Homo sapiens: one gene and its partners. The protein of the gene in region 1 purifies or fractionates together with the protein of each later gene. This does not show direct contact. Each region holds a gene or a part of one and is shown on either strand. Other genes may lie near its edges.

Region 1 (7,028 bases):
ACCAAAATTCAGTAGCTGGATTGAATTCTCAGAAGTCTGCAAGGTTGCACAATAGGATAGTCATCCTTTGAAATGAATGAATTCCACAGAACTGCCACTCTTGTATGAAATATGCACAATCACCCAGCAGTGAATATTTTCATTCCTTTTGCTCAACTTCAGTACAGCATTTTAATATTTTTCAAAGGCTGGAGATGCTTTTAAGTATAGGGACTCTGCAGCCAAATTCTGCAGGGGCATCTGGCTGTTACTTCTTTGTTTAAAATCAGAGGTGACTCTGGCCTCTGCTCATTCTTTCTCCAGATTTTGCAAGACATATTTCACTTTGGGCTGACCTTACAGTGTCATTTGCAGACTTGTGCTCTGGCCTCAAATTGGACTTAATCTGCTGGTTTAGTTATTGCAAAGATTGAATCAGCCCCTCACCAATTACAGTGTGGCTGCAAGTGGATTTAAGTGCAGTATCATTGTTCTGCTTGACAGAGGTCATCCCTTTAAGACACAGCAGCTTCTGTTTTCCTGACTTTTTACCATAGATGATGTGGGTGACTTCTTATGCAAGCATAGTTGTGTATCTCCGAAGAAGCTCCAAGAGAGTTTTATAAGGCTGCTTCTCTGAACTGCCCTGAGAGATATATATGCTGTGGTCTCTTAGCTTACTTTAAGGCTCAGTGAAATCTACACATTGAATCTAGTTCCTTTTGATGTCTTAGAATAGAAGGCTCATGTTTCCTAGCTGTGTGTTGACCAATGAAAAAATTCTTTGCAAAAACAGATCAAATGTAAAGATGCTATTTATTATAGGGGACTGCGTAGAGAATTCCATAGGACACTATTTGGAGGAATAGAGATTCCAGAGTCATTTAAACAAAATAATCAAGGCTGCTTATTGTCTCCATGTACCTACTTTTGCTAGATGAATGAAGGCACTTTAAGGAGTCTTTAACTGTATGTTTTCATGGAGATACTGGTAGCTACTGTGCAGATTGACATAATTACTATCTTGGCAGAATGGGTACTTTTTTTTTGCAAATGTTATTAATGATGGCCTAATCTTACTGCCTTATCTGAACTGTCACATTACATAACCAAGGCTCCAAATTAAACATGTAAAGAAGCTGGCACCAGGCTTGTGGCTTGATTTTGCACGTGAAGATGATGGTTTAAATACCAGTCCAAGCCCCTAAATGCCCCTGATAGCTACTAATAAAAGTTTGGCTCCTTCTCGTGTGGGAAAACATAAGTACTTATTTTATTTTTCATACTCTGTCCACCATCTTGGAATTTGGTCTCTTCTACAAAAGGTATGGCTACATTTGAAGCTGCCACAAATATGTTAGTTTTTTAAAAATTCTGTCTCCAGTTTTTCAGCAGTGGAGCAGGATAATAGGCTAAAAGTGCTGAGCAAAAGTCACCTTTTATGTTTTTGTAAATGCACCTGGAAACAGGAAGTAGATTATAAATAATCATAACTCTGTGAGCACTGGCGACAGAAGCTGCAACCTGGTATTTCAGAACACAGCATCTTCATTATATGATGCAGTGTTTACGTTAGCCACTGCAAAGCTTATTACTCCTCGAAATTTTTGAGGCTTCCCTGGGTTTCTGTTGCCTGCATTCAGGGTGTTAAAGTTGATTCAAGCATTTCAGATTCCTAATTGAACAGGCCTCTTAGGTCACTGCTCTTGGGTCATCATTTGACAGTATCAGTGTGTGATTTGTGGTCTCTGGAGATGTTGAAGTATTCTTTCTTAAATTCTAGGTTATAGTGGCAGCAGCTGTGCCGCTTTTCTGAGATGCCTCGTTATGGTTCATTCACAACATTACTGTTAACTTTGCTTCCTTGGCCGTGTTAGCAGCAACTCTTGAGGTTTTACATCCCTGTTTGACTCACAGATTTTGTTTCAATTTTTTGAAGCTTAGAGCAACTTAACTCATGGATTCTTAAATAGCAGTCTGTGGCTTTGGATGGGCTTCAGAAAGCCCGTGAATCCCCTTAAAATGAATCCGGTATCGTGCATGCATTTGAGAACGGGCATTGTCAGCTAAGAGGGAACAGAGCTTTTATCAGATTTTATGTGACATCAGGACCCAAAAAAGGTTAACACTGTTCTAAATCAACATCTTCATTTTATGAAGAGGAGGGAGGTCCAGTAACCCTAAGCTCTTTATCCATCTCATCCAGATTATTGGTGGCAGGGCCAGGATTAGTGCCTCAAGGTTGCCGACTTCCAGTCCAGCATATTTCCTACCACACTGCAAAATGATGATGAAAGAAAGTATGTCTAACTAGTGAAAAAGCGATTTAGGCAGCTAAATCATTGTGAACTGATAGCATGCAGTGTATTGTTAGGGCGTTCCTGCCTCAGATGCTTTCCAGCGAAGCTCACCCACGCATGCCCCTGGCTCACGCACACACTGAATAGATTCATCTTACCCACATCCCAGGCAGATAGAAAAACCACATTCCAGACCCAGGGACTTGTATTCCTGATTTAGTGGAGGTCTTGAAATGAATGAAAGCGCCTTTTATATAACCTCAAAAATTCTCTGTAGTGTTAATTGCTGTTAGGTCTGTTTCAAAAGGTATTGATGGTGCCTTTTCTTTTTAAGCAACCGCACAATGAGTTGGCATTTTGCAGGCTAATTTTGATTCATAGAAAATCATTGCATAACTGGTTCATTGAGTTAGATATCTGTGGAGGGAAGAGAGGAAGAAGCAAGGCTGCTTCCCTATTCAGAAGGATTCTATCATATTCCTACCTCTGCCACTGGGGGCTTGAGTTTTGGCTCATTCTCTGAGCCTCAGTTTCCATATCTGTAAAATGAAAGTATTGAATTAGAGACCACTGGGCAAAAGCTAGCTGTTTATTCTCTTAGTTGCTCATGTGTTGTATAATGCCTGTTTATGTGCATTTCTTTTTTTTTATTTTTGAAGGCAAATAAAGTGTTGTTGATGTCATTGAGGTGGATCACTTTCTCTCCAATTTTGCCTTAGTTCTATAAACACGCAATTGGGCTAGAGACAAAAGTAATGAAAATTATTATTTCTGTACTGCATTACGTTTTGCAAAGCACTATCACCTTCATTTTCTCATATAATCCTCCTAACACTGTGAGTCAAGTATCAGTTTCCCATGTTGTACGTAAAGATTTGGAGGCTCCGAGAGGTTAAGTGACTTGTTTAGTGCCACACAGCTGGTAGGAGGCAGGGCCAATGTGGTCTGGGTCCAAGTTCAGCATATTTTCTGTCATCTCAAAAGCCCATACCTGTGGGAGGTGCAGCATTATGTGTTTTGGTTGTACAAGAGGCACCTCTGACTTTGGTCTTACTGTTAATCCTGTCGTAGGTGTTTGATATCAGCTGCTACCAGGAATCCCTGGCACCGTGCTTTTGCCTGTCTGCTCATAGTAACATCAACCAAATCACTGAAATTATCCTGGGTGAGACCAAAGCCTATGTGTTCTTTGAGCGAAGCTATGGGGACATGCATTCCTTCGTCCGCACCTGCAAGAAGCTGAGAGAGGAGGAGGCAGCCAGACTGTTCTACCAGATTGCCTCGGCAGTGGCCCACTGCCATGACGGGGGGCTGGTGCTGCGGGACCTCAAGCTGCGGAAATTCATCTTTAAGGACGAAGAGAGGTAGGTCTCATCCTGTCCAGACCTGGGTACTGTGATGGACTGCTCCTAACAACAGCTTCCTAGAAAAGTCTTGAATGGACGTTTTTTTGCCGTCTGTGGTCCAGATGAGGGGAAGGAATCTTAGGAGGGCAAAAGGAAGTGAATATTGCAATTTTCAAGTGTTTGGGAAAACAAATAGCTACTATTCTAAAGGTGTCATCTGGTGCTCAAAGGACAGGTACCAGGATATTCTGTGACCCAATGAATATGTATGATTAGGTGTCTTGAATTCCGAAGGTGGCTGCAAACCTCTTTGACATTTTCAATGCCAGTAAAGGCAGGGCCTTGAAAATTCTACCCGCAGAACACTCAGCAGCCAGAATCAGTCATTTATAATTCATTCATCCATGCACTCATTCAGTAGCTCTTACCTAAGCTTATATTAGGTATTAGTCACAATTCTCAGTACTATTAATATCTAGATGAATTAGATAGCCAACGGACCTATAAAGGAAATGCTACCAGCTCAGAATAGAGGTCCGTGCTGGGTGGGATGAGAACTGGGGTGGTGGGGACATGTCAGTTCTCCCTAGGACTTGGAGAGTCAAGGAAGGTTTTACAGGAGGGGTGATTTTGGAGCCAAGACTCGAAAGATGACTGGATTTCAGGAAATGTGGGAAAGACCGCATTCCAGGTGAGGAAACTGCTGATGCAAATGCATGGCAGTGCAGAGGTCTTGGTTATTGGAGGAGACAGCTGGACAGGATGCAGGCAACTGGCTTATGCCGTTAACTCATTACCTTCTATTTAGCAGACTCTGCTGGGGCCCTGCTTTCTCTCCCAGCCGATTTTGATTACAAGAACTCCTTCAAGCCCTTTTTGTTCTTTTTAAGAATATGAGTTTAGAGGGACAGAGGCAACAAATCTGTATTCATTGCTCACCGTAGTTCCTGAATGAGGCCCCACATAATGTGGAGACCAGCTCATATCTTGATCTTTGCTTGTGAATGCCTTTACCTTTATTAACAAACTGAGAAGGGGCAGCTGTTGGAAGATTTAGAGTGTGGAACCACATTTACCTTTTCTCTTCCGCTCAGATGCCTCTGCCCCTGGAGCCTGGAGATGTTTCCCCTGGTTTTGCCTTCGATACCCTCTGTGATCTTGGATTGGTCCTTCGTCTGTTTCCACCCTCCCCCTACCAGCCTCATATTTCTCCTTCTGTTACCTTCTGTATGCTGTATTGGCTCTAAGGTCTTTTCAATTAATAATAAATTGGTGTATGTGCTTCTTTGAATATTCTCATTTAGAAGATGAATATATGTTGACCCCCAACGATACTGACAAAGGTATTCTCTCTACCCTTGTATGTTCCACCTTTCTTGGAGATTTAATAACTGCACCTACAAAAATAAGAGGTCATATTTGTTTACCTCTTACCATAAGGTTAAAGTTTAATTCTCTCTCCCTATTGAAGTGAATGTCATCATGTCCATTGTATAGACGAGAGCTCCAAAGTGCAACGTGGTGAAGTCCCAAAGTTACGGACAGGAAAGAGCAGAAGTAAGGCCACATTCACTAGTAAGTCAGCTCTCAAGAAATTCATTTGTCTGCCAGAGGGCATGGGGACAGCAAATGCCCTCTCTCGCAGGGATCTGTGTTTTTAAGTGTCGTCTTTGATTGTGTTTCCATAGGGAGGAACTCTCGGGCACCAACGAGTAGAAGGAATGGCCTATTCAGGGATAGGACCCCCATAGTGAATACATGTTTGTGCAAATGAGTAGAGCAGGGTGGAGGTCCCCAAGTCATAGAACATGGGAACAAAAGTGGACCCGGAGGTTGCATAGTCTGTGTGGCACTCTCTTGGTTTGCTGCCAGGAGGCAGAACTCCAGAGGTGAGAGCACGCCCCAGTGCACACAGCTAGCTAGGAGCCAGTGAAGCACAGCCAGGCCTCACCTGGGCTGTGGAGGGCTTTTACTCCCACCCAGCCTTTGCTTCTCCTTTATGAGTGTGTCATCACACGCCAAAATCCTTGATGTCCCAGGATCCAGGGAAGAAGCTTCCAACCTCAGGAGTGTGTGCCTCTGACATTCCGTCTGGAAGTTACGTTTGACTTTCGCGAAAGAGCATGACCCTGTCCAGAGATAACCAGAAAGGAGTATCCAGTGTGAATGTGAAACCGAAACAATTGCCTGGAGTAAACATGTCAAAGCAAAATCCTTTTTCATTTTCAAGAGCATTTTCCAAGGTAAAAAGAGAATGTAAAGGACTGTAGGGAGCTGGCCTATATAGTCCCTACAGCATGGTGGCATGTGTGATAGCCCCTTTGGCCATGCAGCCGTGTTGCCCCAGGGGCCAGCCTTGAGGCTGATGCCCTGTAGGACCTTGGAGAAAATGAGAACTCCTCCATCTGATCAGTGAGGTTACTTGGCCTCATGGCAGGGTCACCTAGCTGGCTTAATGTTACACAGCCAGTCTGAGGGTGCAGCCAGCCTGGAAATCCTGTCATTCCATCGAGAGCTCTTCTTCCAGCCCAAGTCACATGGAGGTCCCAGTGGGCTTGCTTTTCAGGAACATGACAAGTGTCTGTCTGGGCAGCTCTGAGAAGGTCACCTCTGTTTTCAAGGACATTTTGAATGTTCTCAGCAGTAGCTGATTGATAAAGAGCTTTTTTGTTTTTCTAAAATCCAACTATCAACTTTTTGTGAAAGGGGAATCATGCCTAGTCACCTTTTTCTTCTTGTTGTTTTGTATTTTAACCTCTCGATTCCAGAATGTGAAACTTCTGCTTTTTGTTCCACAATGTATTTCTCCTTCTCTGCCTCCTGGCAGCATTGAGTTTCATGGCAGATTCTCTTTTATTTGGCCTGCATGGTGGCCTACATGGAGCACATTGCCAGCACTTCCTGAGGGAAGAGTGTGAGGCCAAGTGTCAGGGGCCCAGGACCTCATTGGCTCCATGCTTGCTGCTGGGAACTCTCATCTTCCACCCTAATTGCATCACTTTTAGTGGAGCTAAAGCTTCCTTCTCCCTCAACAACATCGAAAGTGTAAGGAAGCAATGGGTTAAATTTTAAAGGCTTTTGGAAAGCTAAACCACAGAGTTAATGTCTGTTTTCTCACCTTTTGGGCATTGGTCCCACGGTGAAAAAGCAAAGAAGCAAATTTGGGAAGTGCTGCTTTATTCATCTTCTGACCATCACACACCTCTTTTGCGCATCAGTCTTCTTCTCAGTGATGTGCTTCTTGAACTCTGGTGATCTGGAAAGCAATCGAAAGTGCAGGCTTTACGTGTGAAATTGGCTGAGGCCCACCTGGTGCAGAAGAAGACCTGCCTATGGGCTGACTCCTTGTGCCTAAAGTTTCGATTGTGTGCCATCTGGGACTCTGCATCCATGGCCATCCATG
Region 2 (7,028 bases), on another chromosome or scaffold:
GGTTCAAGCAGTTCTCCTGCCTCAGCCTCCTGTGTAGCTGGAGTCCCCGCCACCATGCCCAGCTAATTTTTGTATTTTTAGTAGAGATGGAGTTTCACTATGTTGGCCAGGCTGGTCTCGAACTCCTGACCTTGTGACCTCCCTGCCTCAGCCTCCCAAAGTGCTGGTATTACAGGCGTGAGCCACTGCACCCGGCCAGTTTGTTCCTCTTTTACTTTGTTTAGTGTATTCTTATTCTTCAAGGCTCATACCAATTGTTGCTCCATTAATTATTTTAACATATTTATGAGCGCTTAACTGTCCCTTCTCCTAGGTGCTGGGAATACAGCAAGGAATTAGACCAGTTCCCTGCTCTCTGGTATGGTGGGACAGATACTAAAAAGGTAAACAACTTAATTTCAGGAAGAGATAAAGACCATTAATAATATAGGGTGTATCAGTAAATTCATGTGGGCAGACGTAAGGTGCCTGGGGAAGATTTCTGAGGAGGTACTATTTTAGCTGAGACTTGAATGATGAAACAGAGGCAGATCTTTCAGCACTTAAATAATGTTGTTCCACTTCTTTCTAACTTCCATGGTTTCTGATGAGAAATCTACAGACATTTGAATTGTTGCACCTCTATAGGTGATACGTGGTTTCTATCTGGTTACTTTAGAGGTTTTTACTGTATATCTTTTAGTTTTTTCCATTTTAGCTATGATGTGCCTGGGCATGGATTTCTTTGGATTTATCATATTTGAGGGTCTCTGAACTTCCTGAATTTGGGGGGTCTCTGAACCTTTTGAATTGGAGTTTATATCTTTAGCCAAATTTGGGAAATTTCCTTCCTCCTTCCCTTGCTTCCTTCCTCTCTCCCTTCCTTTCTTCTTTCCTTCCTTTCTTTCATCTTTCTTTTTTTCCCCTTCCTTCCTTTCTTTCTTTCTTTTTTTCTTTCTTTTGACAGAGTCTCACTGCATTGCCCAGGCTGGAGTGCAGTGGCATGATCTCAGCTCACTTCAGCCTCTGCTTCCCAGGCTCAAGTGATCCTCCCACCTCAGCCTCCTGAGTAGCTGTGACTACAAGTGCACACCACTGTGCCCGGCTACTTTTTGTATTTTTAGTAGAGATGGGGTTTTGCCATGATGCCCAGGCTGGTCTTGAACTCCTGGGCTCAAGCAATTTGCCCATCTCAGCCTCCCAAAGTTCTGGGATTATGGATGTGTGCCACCACCACCAACTATTACAGCCATTATTTCTTAATTTTTTTTTTTTTTCTTAGCATTCTACTCCTCAAGATCAGGGTGTTACAACTTTTGATATTTTCCCTAGGGCCCTGAGGCTTTACTGACTTTTTTTCAGTCTTTTTATTTTTTCCCTCTTTTGTTCACATTGGGTAATGTATACTAATCTATCTTCAGGGTGACTGACTCATTTCTCTGATGACTTCATTCTGCCCTTGAGCCCATCAGTGAGTTTTTTATTCTTTTTCAGAATTGTTTTTAAATTTTTAAAAGATATTTTACTAGAGTCTATGGAAGCTAGAAGAGTTTTGTATGCTGGTTATTGCTTTTTCAGCTCTAAACTTCTTATCTGGATCTTTAAGAAATATCTTCTGTTTCTTAGCTGAGACTTTGTTTTTCCATCATTTCAAGAGTGTTTGTGATTACTTATTGGAACATTTTTATAATAGGTACTTCAAAATCTGTCTCAGAGAATTCCAACTTTTGTAGCATCTCAACATTGGTGTCTGTCAATTGTCTTTTCTAGATTGAGTTTTTTCCTAGTACTTCATATGCTGAATGATTTTGGATTGTTTCCTAGACATTTTGAATATTATAAGATGATAGGGCTTGTTTAAATCCTAAGAGGATGTTGGTGATTTTTGGCTTGGTAGGCAATCTACCTAATTAGCTTCAGGGAATTTGCAATTTGTAACTCTCTTTAGGCTATGGTTCTAATGGCAGATGAATTTTCAGAAAGTCTTTGCAGTGCTATTTGGATCTGTCCCATGTATGTGACATTCAGTGGCCAGTCTGCAATCTGGGTGTTGATTATTTCAGTTCTCAAAGCCTTTAGTATGATTTGGACCAGATCCACACGTGTGCAGCTTGGGAGTTCATGAACAACTTCATGATGTTACTTTTCTGAGCTCCTCCCCATCTGATATCTCCCCAGTACCTTCTGGTTCCACTGGGGTCTCCCTTTTGATCCTCTGATGACAAAATTGGGGCTTTAATTATCCTTCCTTGCAACACACTTGCTCTTCAAGCAGCAGGAGAACCAGGGGAGACAATGTTAACCTCACTGCCCATTCAGTGGTACTTTATTGTTAGCCAATTGGTTTTTCTCATATGCCTGTCTTATGCATTCTGTCTAGGTTTTATAGCTGCATTTTTAGTGGGAGAGAGAAGGTGGTGTTTGATTATTCCATCTTATCTGGCAACAGCTTTATAACTTAAGTTTTTCACTAAATGCCGTTGACTTTTATGGCCTGTGATTTAACTTTGATTTGAATCAAGGTATAATAAAACAATTAGAAGACTTTGCCATATAATAGATGCCCCATAAATATTAAAACATATTTTTATTGTGATTTTAAAATAGCCTAACATTTACCGTCTTAACTGATTGTAAGTGTACAGTTCAGTAGTATTAAGTATATTCACATTGTGAAATTGATCTCGAGAAGTTTTTCATCTTGAAAATCTGAAAAGTCTAACCCATTCAACAGCACCTTCTCTTTCCCCTCCTGCTAGTCCCTGGTGACCACCATTCTTCTTTGTTTCTGTGAATTTGATTCCTTTTTCTTTTTTTAATGATAAGTATTTTACATTAATTTTTTTTTTTTTTTTTTTTTTTTAGAGATTGGGTCTTGCTCTGTTGCCCAAGCTAGACTCAAACTCCTGGGCTCAAGTGGTCCACCTCAGCCTCCCAAGTAGCTGGGATTACAGGTGTGTGCTATGGCACCTGGCTGTTAAATTTGATTACGTTTGATACTTCATTTAAGTGGAATCATACAGTATTTGTCTGTTTGTGATTGGCTTATTTGACTTCACATAATGTCCTCAAGTTTCAGTGATGTAGCATATGTCAGAATTTTCTTCCTTTTGAAGGCCGAGTAATATTCCTTTGTGTGTATATACCATATTTTGTTTATCCACTCATCCATCAGTGAACTTTTGGGTTGCTTCCATCTCTTGACTACTATGAATAGCGCTGATATGAACATGGGTGTGCAAATATCTCTTAGAAATCCTGCTTTCAGTTATTTTGGATTTATACCCAGAAGTAGAATTGTTGGATCTTATGGTAGTTCTAATTTTCTTCAAGGAACCTTCATACTGTTTTCCTTAGTAGCTGTACTATTTTTCAGTTCCACCAACAATGCACAAGGGTTCAACTTCCTCTATGTCCTCAATGAAACTTGTCATTTTCTTTTTTTAAAAAAAGCAGTCGTTCTAATGGGTGTGAGGTGATATCCCATTGTAGTTTTGATTTACATTTCTCTGATGATTAGTGATGTTGAGCATCTATCTTTTCATATGCTTTGTGGCCATTTGTATAGGAGAAATGTCTGTTCCAGTACTTTGACCATTTTAAAATTGGGTATATGATTTTTTGTTATTGAGTTATAGGAGTTCTTTATATGTTCTAGATATTAACCCTTTATCCAATATATGATTTGCAAATATTTTCTTCCATTCTGTAGAAAGCCCTTTCACTCGGTTGATTGTGTCCTTTGATCACAGAAGTTTTAAGTTTGATGTATTCCCATTTGTCTATTTTTGTCTTGGTCGCCTATGCCTTTTGTGTCTTATCCAAGAAATCACTGCCAGATCTGATGTCATGAAGCTTTCCTCCTGTATTTTCTTCTAGTAGTTTTATAGTTATGGGTCTTATATTTAGATTCTTTTCCTATTTTGGGTTAATTTTTGTATAGGGTGTAAGATAGGGTCTGACTTCATTCTTTTGCATGTGGCTATTCAGTTTTCCCAACACCATTTGTTGAAGTGACTGTCCTTTTTCTATTGAGTAGTAGTAGGACCTTATCAAAGATTGTTTAACCATATATGCCAGAGTTTATCTGTGGGCCATTTCATTGGTCTGTGTCTGTCTTTATCCAGTACCACAATTTTTTGATTACTGTGGTTTGTAATATATTTTGAAATCAAGAGGCTTGAATCCTCTTTGTTCTTTTTCAAAATTATTTTGTGTATTTGGAGGCCCTTGAGATACCATATGAATTTTAGGATGAATTTTTTATCTTTGTGAAAAGTGCTATTAGGATTTTGATAGGGTTTGTATTGAATCTGTAGATTATTTTGGGTAATATGGATATCTTAACAGCCCAATAAATATTTTTTGCTGGAATGAATGCACATTGAATATGATTTTTTTGTTTGTTTGTTTGAGATAGAGTCTCACTCTGTTGCCCAGGCTGGAGTGCAGTGTTGTGACCACGGCTTATTGCAGCTTCGATGATCCAAGCTTAAACAATCCTTCCACTTCAGCCTCTCAAGTAGCTGGAACTACAGTCATGTGCCACCATGCCTAGCTAATTTTTATATTTTTTTGTAGAGACAGGGTTTTGCCATGTTTTCCAGGCTGGGCTTGAACTAGTGAGCTCAGGTGATCCACTTGCTTCGGCCTCCCAAAGTGTTGGGATTACAGGTGTGAGCCACTGCGCCCAGCCGAATGTGTCTTATACTGTTCAAATTTGTAGTTGTAGGTTTTTTTCTGTTGAACTTTCCCAACAGCTGAGCATACTTGGAAGGTATTCCTAGTGAACTAGATCCTTCCCTTAGACCTGTTTCTAGACTTAGAAATGTTAGGACCACTTACTCAGTATAATCTGGGAAGTAGTAATGCCAGTCACTGTCATCTTGGGAGCTCCTAGGTTCAGGATATAAGAAGAGAAATCTGTTTCACTTGTATATATTTATATTTTGGTAAATTCTGTTTCACTTTCTTGACTTCTGCTTTACTTTTCTGTTTAGAGATGTGATAATGGATCATCATGTTTCTACCATCAAGCCTCGAAGAATCCAAAACCAAAATGTCATTCACCGCTTGGAACGCCGGCGGATCAGTTCAGGCAAGGCAGGTACCCACTGGCACCAAGTCCGAGTGTTCCATCAGAATGTCTTCCCCAACTTCACAGTTGTCAACGTTGAAAAGCCTCCTTGTTTCTTGCGTAAATTCTCACCTGATGGACGCTACTTTATTGCTTTTTCTTCAGACCAGACATCTCTTGAAATCTATGAGTACCAGGGCTGCCAGGCAGCAGAGGACCTACTGCAGGGATACGAAGGAGAAATCCTGTCCAATGGCAATGACCAGCGGTCAGTGAATATCCGGGGCCGGCTCTTTGAACGCTTTTTTGTCCTGCTGCACATTACCAATGTTGCGGCCAATGGTGAGCACCTGAACCGGGAGTGTAGTCTCTTCACTGATGACTGCCGCTGTGTCATCGTGGGCTCAGCTGCCTACCTCCCAGATGAGCCTCACCCTCCATTTTTTGAGGTATATCGGAACAGTGAATCAGTGACCCCCAACCCACGGTCCCCTCTAGAAGACTATTCCCTCCATATCATTGACCTTCACACCGGCCGCTTATGTGATACACGCACGTTCAAGTGTGACAAGGTGGTCTTGTCACACAACCAAGGGCTGTACTTGTACAAAAACATCCTGGCCATCTTGTCTGTGCAACAACAGACCATCCATGTCTTCCAGGTGACTCCTGAAGGCACTTTCATTGATGTGCGGACCATTGGCCGCTTTTGCTATGAGGATGACCTGCTCACTGTGTCAGCTGTTTTCCCTGAGGTACAGCGGGACAGTCAGACAGGCATGGCCAATCCCTTTAGGGATCCTTTCATCAATTCCCTCAAACACCGGTTGCTGGTATATTTGTGGCGCCGGGCAGAACAGGATGGTAGTGCAATGGCCAAGAGGCGCTTCTTCCAGTATTTTGACCAACTGCGGCAGCTGCGAATGTGGAAAATGCAGCTTCTGGATGAAAACCACCTGTTTATCAAGTACACTAGTGAGGATGTAGTAACACTGCGAGTCACAGATCCATCACAGGTATGAGGTACACTCCTGCCTTTTACTTGTCTAATCTCCTTGGCAAAATGGGAAGGTTTCTCTGTTTGTTTATAGCCCACCCCTCAGAAATAGACATTTCACGTAGTCTGAATTGATATCCTAGGGCCCAAACTTAAAATCAGCTCCATTTTTCTCTGGTCATATGTATTTATCTGGACAAATGGAAGCTAAAGTTCAAGTCATTGACAGGAAGATAGTCACCTCTGATTACTACCCTAACTCTTCTGCAGAGTATTTTCAGTACTCATGAGATGGAAGCCCAAATGCTACAAGGTCAAGGTTTGGACTACTTATGGATAACCTCCCTTGATTTTGTAAGACTGTATTATTGGTCTGGCTGTTTTAGTTCTGGCAATGAGAATGAGTACACCATACCAAAAAGAAAATTCTCTAAGTAACCCCACTTTCATCCTTAAATGGTTAATGTCAATTTACTTCTCTGTAAAGTACTATAAAGTCCTATTTATAAGGTAACTAATAAGTGCATTCATTTGGCAGAATTAAGTTTTGTGACTTTACCCTGACCTTGCCCACATGCTGGGACATAGGTTGTAGAGCAGTGAAGAGGTCAAAAGGAAGCTGAAATTTATGATCCGTGAGGAGAGTCATCAGGACAGCAAATCTTAAAGGTTTTTCAGTTTGGGGGAAGAATGCCTTTCTTTCAGTAGGGGGAAGAAGCATTTCCCAAAAGGGAATAAGGTGATATAAAGAGCACAGAACTGCTAAGATTTGGGGATTGAAAAACTATGTTGAAATTAAGGGTAATTTGGGCATTTGTCTTTGAAAACCTCTCCACTTCAGTGTTGACCAAGTTAGACAACTACCTTTCTACACCTATGTCTCCCCATTCTCCTGTTTGCAGATTGTCTCCTTAGACACTAGTTTGGAAATTCAGAACAACCAGCAAATCAGTAAACCACGAAGTCAACTGAGTT
Region 3 (7,028 bases), on another chromosome or scaffold:
GTGCAGTTTCTTGCCTTGCTGCTTAATCACTTGACTAATGACATTTTTGACAAAGAATACAGCTAGTTTCCTACAGCTGAATTACGTATTTCAGCTGTTGATATAAATCACTCTTTTAACAGTTGAAATGTTTCAAAATGTGAAAGAAAAATGCAATTTATGTCCCCAGAAACACGATTTTTCAAAAGTATACTTGTATGTTGAAATTAAAAACAAATTCTGTGAAATTGAATTTGTCATGCAGTAAATTTTTATAAATCTCTTGTTTTAATTATTACTGCTGACAGTGGATGGCAGAAATGAACGTTGTATAGCAGTAGTAAGACTTAAAGTTTGTTTTTGAATTTAATTGCATAAGCAACATTTCAGTTAATTAGTTTACCTTTTATTTAGTCTCAGCCTAACTAGTCACTGTTTAACTTTTGAAGTACTTTTGCTTGGGTTATCAGATTTCATAATAAAAGTAGTTGAAATATCATACTGTTAATATAAGAGGTCATCTGTTTTGTATTAGTTCTAGAAAGCTTTCTGCACCTGAAAATTACAGTGTTCATTTCAGTTAGTTCATGATCTGTTTTTAGAATCTCATTATGTTCATGTTTGAGAATATATATGATTAAATATGTCAGAGATAGGGAGCAAATGTTTCAGTATCTAGAAGTCCTTAAATCCTGAGTCTTAGTGATGTGGAAGTTCTTCCACTAAAAAAGGTGGTTTGAGGGGGGGGACCTGTTTGTCTTTCTTTCCCTTTTAATCAAAATTTTCTAGAAATAATATTATTCTTTATACTTTTTGATTAATATTTCTATTAAAATCTATTTTTACAGTATAAAAGGATCTTGTTACCCCCAAAATATTTTTAAAAACATACTCTACAGGTTCTTGATACCTTAATATATTAAAAACAAAACATAACCAAAATGTAAGAAAATAATAGCAATGAAATCAAAACAAAAAGTTAACTTTTTAATATGAGAGTTAAGAGTTAGCTAATGTCACTAAATAATAACATGTAGAAAAAAGAGAGAGAGCTGTCTTGAATAACAGGATACCAGCAGAAGAAATAATAGACATATTTAGGTCATCATCTTAATTCTTTTTTTTTTTTTTTTTTTTTTTTTGAGACGGAGTCTCGCTCTGTTGCCCAGGCCGGACTGCGGACTGCAATGGCGCAATCTCGGCTCACTGCAAGCTCCGCTTCCTGGGTTCACGCCATTCTCCTGCCTCAGCCTCCCGAGTAGCTGGGACTACAGGCGCCCGCCACCGCGCCTGGCTAATTTTTTGTATTTTCAGTAGAGACGGGGTTTCACCTTGTTAGCCAGGATGGTCTCGATCTCCTGACCTCATGATCCACCCGCCTCGGCCTCCCAAAGTGCTGGGATTACAGGCGTGAGCCACCGCGCCCGGCCCTTAATTCTTTTGACAGCATTTTTACTTATGTGTCAGTTTTCTCCCTGTAATGTATTTAAGCTATTATTTTGATAGGTTAGTGTTTAAACGTATTATATATGTTAAAACTAATAGTTTAGTAATGGCATACTTTTACTGGCACAACATTGGAATGGTGTTGATTAGCTATGTATATGAGTAGGCGGAGAAAAAGTATTTAGTGATAACTAGTTCACTTGAAGTCTCAGCTATACCAAAACCTCCTAAATTAAAAACAGGATTTCAGTTCTGATAATAACTCTGTCCTTTACCAGATAAAGTAGTATTTCTCCTTCAGTGACATGAGACTATGGGTATAAATTGAGTTGGGATAGATGAATAGTTGTCATCATTATAGTTATGGTGCATTAAAATCCACATGGCAGCAAGTAGTAGCTGAGGCAGCAGTTCAATTGAGGTTGTACAAATAAATCTACTGCATTGCTATAGTATCATACTTTACTGGAGGGAACATTTGCTGAATTGTGCCCTAGTCAGTGACACTTAACTGAATAAATTTTTTTTTTAAATTGGCTGGGCACCATGTCTGACGCCTGAAATCTGTAATCCCAGCACTTTGGGAGGCTGAGGTGGGAGGATTGCTTGAGCCCTGGAGTTCAAGACCAGCCCAGGCGACATAGTGAGACCCCATCTCTGTAAAAAAAAAAAAAAAAAAGAATTTTAATTCTTTAAAAAATTATATAAAATTAAGGAAGCATTTAAAGCTGTAAAGAAAAGTGGGCGTATCAATGTGTGTCTTTAAGGGAAATAGTCCTTGTTGTTGTTGTAGTTGTTTTTTAAGACAGGGTCTTGCTGTGTCACCCAGGCTGGAGTGCAGTGGCACAGTCATGGCTTACTGCAGCTTCAAATTCCTGGGTTCAAGCAGTCCTCCCACCTCAGCCTCCCAAGTCTCTGGAGACAAGAACCCATCACTATGCCTCACTAATTGTTTCATTTTTTTGTAGCGATCGGGTCTCACTATGTTGCCAGGCTGGTCTCAAACTCCTGGACTCAAGGGATCCTCCCACCTCGGTCTCTCAGAGTGCTGGGATTGCAGGCATGAGCCACCGAACCCAGCCTGAAATATTCTTAATGTGTCTTTTTCTTACTTACCATCATCAGTTCAGCAAGCTTCTTAATAAATCATTAATCATTAACTGTTCTGTGAATGGATATTAAGAAAATGGATGTTTGTATTTTTGTATGTAGGTGTTTGTATTTTGTGCATTAAATGAATGCTTAATAGATACAGAGCACTAGCTAGGCATTTTGAGAGAAGAAACACACATACATAGATATTGAAGATACATTCATACACATAGATTTTAAACCTTTAAACCTTTAGCCTTTACACTTTGAGTTTTACATTAAGAGCTTTGATCTGTAATAAAGCATAGTAATTATTAGCACCAGCTCTGAAACCAGACTACCTTGTGTTTGAATCCCACCTCAGCCACTTACAGATTGACTAACTTTGGGCAATTTACCTCACCTCTAATCTTCATTTTCTCATCTGTAAAATGTAGATAATAATAATACATATATCACAGGTTGTTATGAGGACTAAATGAGGTAATACATGCAAAATGTTTTAGTAAGTGAATGATTAATGAATATTAGGTATTATTGTGTAATTAATTGTAGATCAGTGAGAATTCTTATCGCTAAACCTCTAGAAAAGATGCTTAAATCATATTGAGGAATAATGTATGTGATGATTCATTTCAACTTTTACTACCTTTGGGCTAATTAGATTTCCAGCTGGTTATGTAACAACTGTGTTTAGGCTGCAAGTTCTGTAAAAGCGAGTATGATCTTGTACTTGCTTTCAAATAGCTTGTTTTGGAGCTTATATAAAAATGATCAGCAAGAGAGGAGTGAATAACGCTGAAGGAAAGGAGATTATTTATTTATTTATTTATTTAACCTCTTTTGTGATATGAGGAATGTGTATTGGGGTTTTATAATTCAGAGAGATATTTGGGGAGGGGGATTAGGTATGGATTTGGGGAAAAGTAATGATAATTCAGTGGTTCTGTTATATGTATTCCATCCCCTTGTCATCACCCAATTGCTTCAGTAATTCAAATTATATACTAATTTATTTATTAAAAATAAAATTTAATATTGTGAAATTCTACTACCTCCACAAAATGGCAGGGAAATAAGTAGAATGTATGGAAAAATTAGTTGATAATTGTCTTTTGGCATACTTTTAGTATATCAAATGATTCACGCCATTAAATCTTTCTCAGTAAGCTGTAATATGGTTATTAGAACTGAATGAAAAGCATGTCAGGTGTCTTGGAACAAAAGTACACCTGTGCACAATTGTGTAGATATACAAATGTATATATTAAAAGTTTTATATTACACAAATCTCAACAACTTTTAATTTGATATGTGTTGATTACTTAATCTGGATATGAGGTCTAGTACAATTTGAAGGTATTTAAAGTAGATCTTTTATCCTTGTAGACCGAATTACTTTAGAAATAGAAAATAGCAAATTCTGAAATGTTGTCATTACATACTTTTTCCCCTTAGTATTGAATTTGACCGGGATTGTGACTATTTTGCGATTGCTGGAGTTACAAAGAAGATTAAAGTCTATGAATATGACACTGTCATCCAGGATGCAGTGGATATTCATTACCCTGAGAATGAAATGACCTGCAATTCGAAAATCAGGTATTTACATTATTTTCTTGACATGATGCAGTATAGATGTAACAATTTGCATATGTAATTATCATGAGATTATTTTACCTTTGCATGACACTTTTTACTCATGGTGAACACTATTATTGTACTATGTATACAGAGTATATATTATTACTTATATCATCTTTCTTACAGATATTGGTTGCTTTTTTCTTGTGAGGTTAGCCTTTTTTTTTTTTCTGGTTGCCAAATTAAAGTTCTTCTTTCACTTAATCAAATAAAGGTCTTTGTTGGACATGGTTGTTGGAGACTCTATGGAGTACTGAATGAGGATTAATGTAGCTTATGAATAGTATTTGAACATCAGGAATTTTTCCCCTAGCCTGCACATATCTCAACATATTAGAATTGTTTCTAGTTTTAAGAATTTTTTTTACAAGAATATTCTGCTTTTCACTGAAGGAATGGTGTTTATGTTTTCTGTATTAGAGATTATACTTTATAAGCAGTGCTTTTCAAACCTAAAATACTCTTAAACACTAACAGTATGTTAAGACTCTACTCCTGATCTGCTCCCCAAAAAATCTCAGAAGAATTCTAGAATCTGCTTTTTTTTTTTTTTTTTTCCTTCTAAACAAGCTTCCCAAGCTGTTCTCATGAGCACTGGCTTTAAAAGAGAATTATATGAGGAAATCATCTAATAATAACTTTGTATAGAACTTTGAACATTTTCAAAATAGCCATCCTTGAACCTTTTTTATCTTTAATGAATGGCATACATAGTATGTTTGTTACAGTCTTTGTATAATTTATTTGTTATAACTTTCTTTTTTCTAGTTCATTTATAAAAATACTATATCGATAATTGGTGAGCTTCCCCATTCATTTGTGGCACTCATCATTGAGAATCTGTTATAGTTTATGTCCTAAGTGAAGAGGATATAACATGAATTAGATACAAGTTTATTGAATTCTTATATATCAGGCATTATCCTAAGTGCTTGGTCTTTAGCAGACCTATGAAATAGTTACCATTATTGCTCCATTTTATACAAAGAAAGCTGAGCACAGGAAGGTAAATAACCTGCCTAAGATTATACACCTGCTATATAGAGGAGCCAGGATTCAGACTGAAGTAGTTTGGTTCTAGAGTCTGTGCCCTTAAACATTTCCTGCTCCTTATTTATAAAATGGAGGTCACAATAGTAATACTTATTTAATAGGATTGTACTTTTAAAAAATCCCCATAATGCACTCAGAACAACACTTGGCCCATGGCAAGTACTCATAATATATTACATAATGAAAACGTGGATTAGAAAGTTTAAATGTGCTGTCTACCTGTTCTGTATTTGTATGTGTAAAAATGTGCAATACTTCCTGATATATTGGAATAAATGGTGAAAGCGCTCAAGGCTGAAAGCTGTGGGCCTGGGGCTGAAAGGATCAATACCTAAGGATGCCTAAAATAGATTCGGAGCACATCTACTGTGAAAGTGTACTAAATTAGCCAGAGCCACAGCTAATAAGTAACAGATCTGGAATTTGAACTCAAGTCTACCTAAATTCAAAATGTGTCTCTTAATTGTTCCAGATAATTTCTACCAGAAATTCTAATTAAGTATATTTAAAAATGCAAATAAACTCTTCCAGTCTCTGGAATTTAGCATCAATGCAACTAGTAGAAAGCAAAAGACCTTGTGTTCATGTCTTAGAAGTTACCTACATTAACTGCCTTCTAAGTAACTTCTTCCATAATATGCATTCCCTTTACTATATGCGTGATGCAGATATGTATCTCAGCAGAAGTTTTTAGATGTTGTAGACTTCTGGAGTACTTGAGAATAGCCAAAACCATAAATGATAAAAGTTTGATTCTAACTTTTAGATGCTTTTAATTGGAATTTTAGTCATAAGTTATAATTAGTCAAGTCAAGACTTTTGGGATGTAAATACAGAAACCCAATTCACTGTAGTTTATTTGGCTTATATGATTTGGCACAACTGGATCCAGGGGGTTAAACAGTCTCATCAGGTCTGTCATTCTGCCATGGTATGCCTTGAGCCCTCTGGATAGTATCACCTTCACTGATAGACATCGTTTCCTCATGTATCAAAGATGGCCAGTGATAGCTCTAGGCTCACATCCATCTTAACAGCTAGTGATCACAGTAAAAGGTGGTTAGGGTCATTACTTGTTAATTTTTATTTTTAAAATTTCAAAATTATTGGTATGTCTTTTCCCAGGTATGTTGTGGGCAGAATAATGATTGTGAACTGATAGAGACCATTTTAAAATAGTGCAAATCTTTCTGAACACATTAAAATTATTTTTATCCCATTGTTATTTATTTTTATGTAAAGTAACTTTTAACTGTATTTCTTTCAGCTGTATCAGTTGGAGTAGTTACCATAAGAACCTGTTAGCTAGCAGTGATTATGAAGGCACTGTTATTTTATGGGATGGATTCACAGGACAGAGGTCAAAGGTCTATCAGGTAAATAAGGGTACTAGTTACATGTTATATGAATCATACATTTGGTTTGTTAAAACTTTTAGAACTTCATGTGCCTTATAATTACAGATTTGAAGTCACTATTTAGTATTTTTTATACCTGTGTAACACCTATGCAATACCAAATGCTTTTTTTTCCTGTCTCCCACTTTTGGTACCATATGCTTTTCCAAAGCATTTCTTCAGACTTCGGTCTTTATGGAATGTATCAGGTAAATTTCTAAAAGCAATAATTTTGGTAAATGTATAAAAAGTTTTGGAAGTACTTTATATCAACATCTTATTTGCTTTTCATTTGTTTTCTAGCCTGTTGTCTTTCCCTCTCCCCGTAACAATAAATTGATATCAGGTTTTTTTTTTTCTTGCTTTATTCATTTTGAGATCTGTATTCTATCTGAGGCTACTGTCTTCTTTCTGCTT

Evidence for each region. Proteins that work in one complex are often made in the same cells at the same time.
Region 2: the proteins of TRIB2 (region 1) and DET1 purify together in Homo sapiens (affinity purification with mass spectrometry; 3 studies listed by BioGRID and IntAct, with this or other methods). This does not show direct contact.
Region 3: the proteins of TRIB2 (region 1) and COP1 purify together in Homo sapiens (affinity purification with mass spectrometry; 5 studies listed by BioGRID and IntAct, with this or other methods). This does not show direct contact.

What each region holds. Positions count from the first base shown.
Region 1 is NC_000002.12:12,719,910-12,726,937, forward strand, and holds part of TRIB2 (tribbles homolog 2), read left to right. Parts: intron 1-3,350; coding exon 3,351-3,643; intron 3,644-7,028.
Region 2 is NC_000015.10:88,529,667-88,536,694, reverse strand, and holds part of DET1 (DET1 homolog), read left to right. Parts: intron 1-313; exon of another isoform or gene 314-360; coding exon of another isoform or gene 361-383; intron 384-4,979; coding exon of another isoform or gene 4,980-4,989; coding exon 4,990-6,072; intron 6,073-7,028. UniProt on the Homo sapiens protein: Component of the E3 ubiquitin ligase DCX DET1-COP1 complex, which is required for ubiquitination and subsequent degradation of target proteins. The complex is involved in JUN ubiquitination and degradation.
Region 3 is NC_000001.11:176,043,272-176,050,299, reverse strand, and holds part of COP1 (E3 ubiquitin-protein ligase COP1), read left to right. Parts: intron 1-3,975; coding exon 3,976-4,119; intron 4,120-6,481; coding exon 6,482-6,590; intron 6,591-7,028. UniProt on the Homo sapiens protein: E3 ubiquitin-protein ligase that mediates ubiquitination and subsequent proteasomal degradation of target proteins.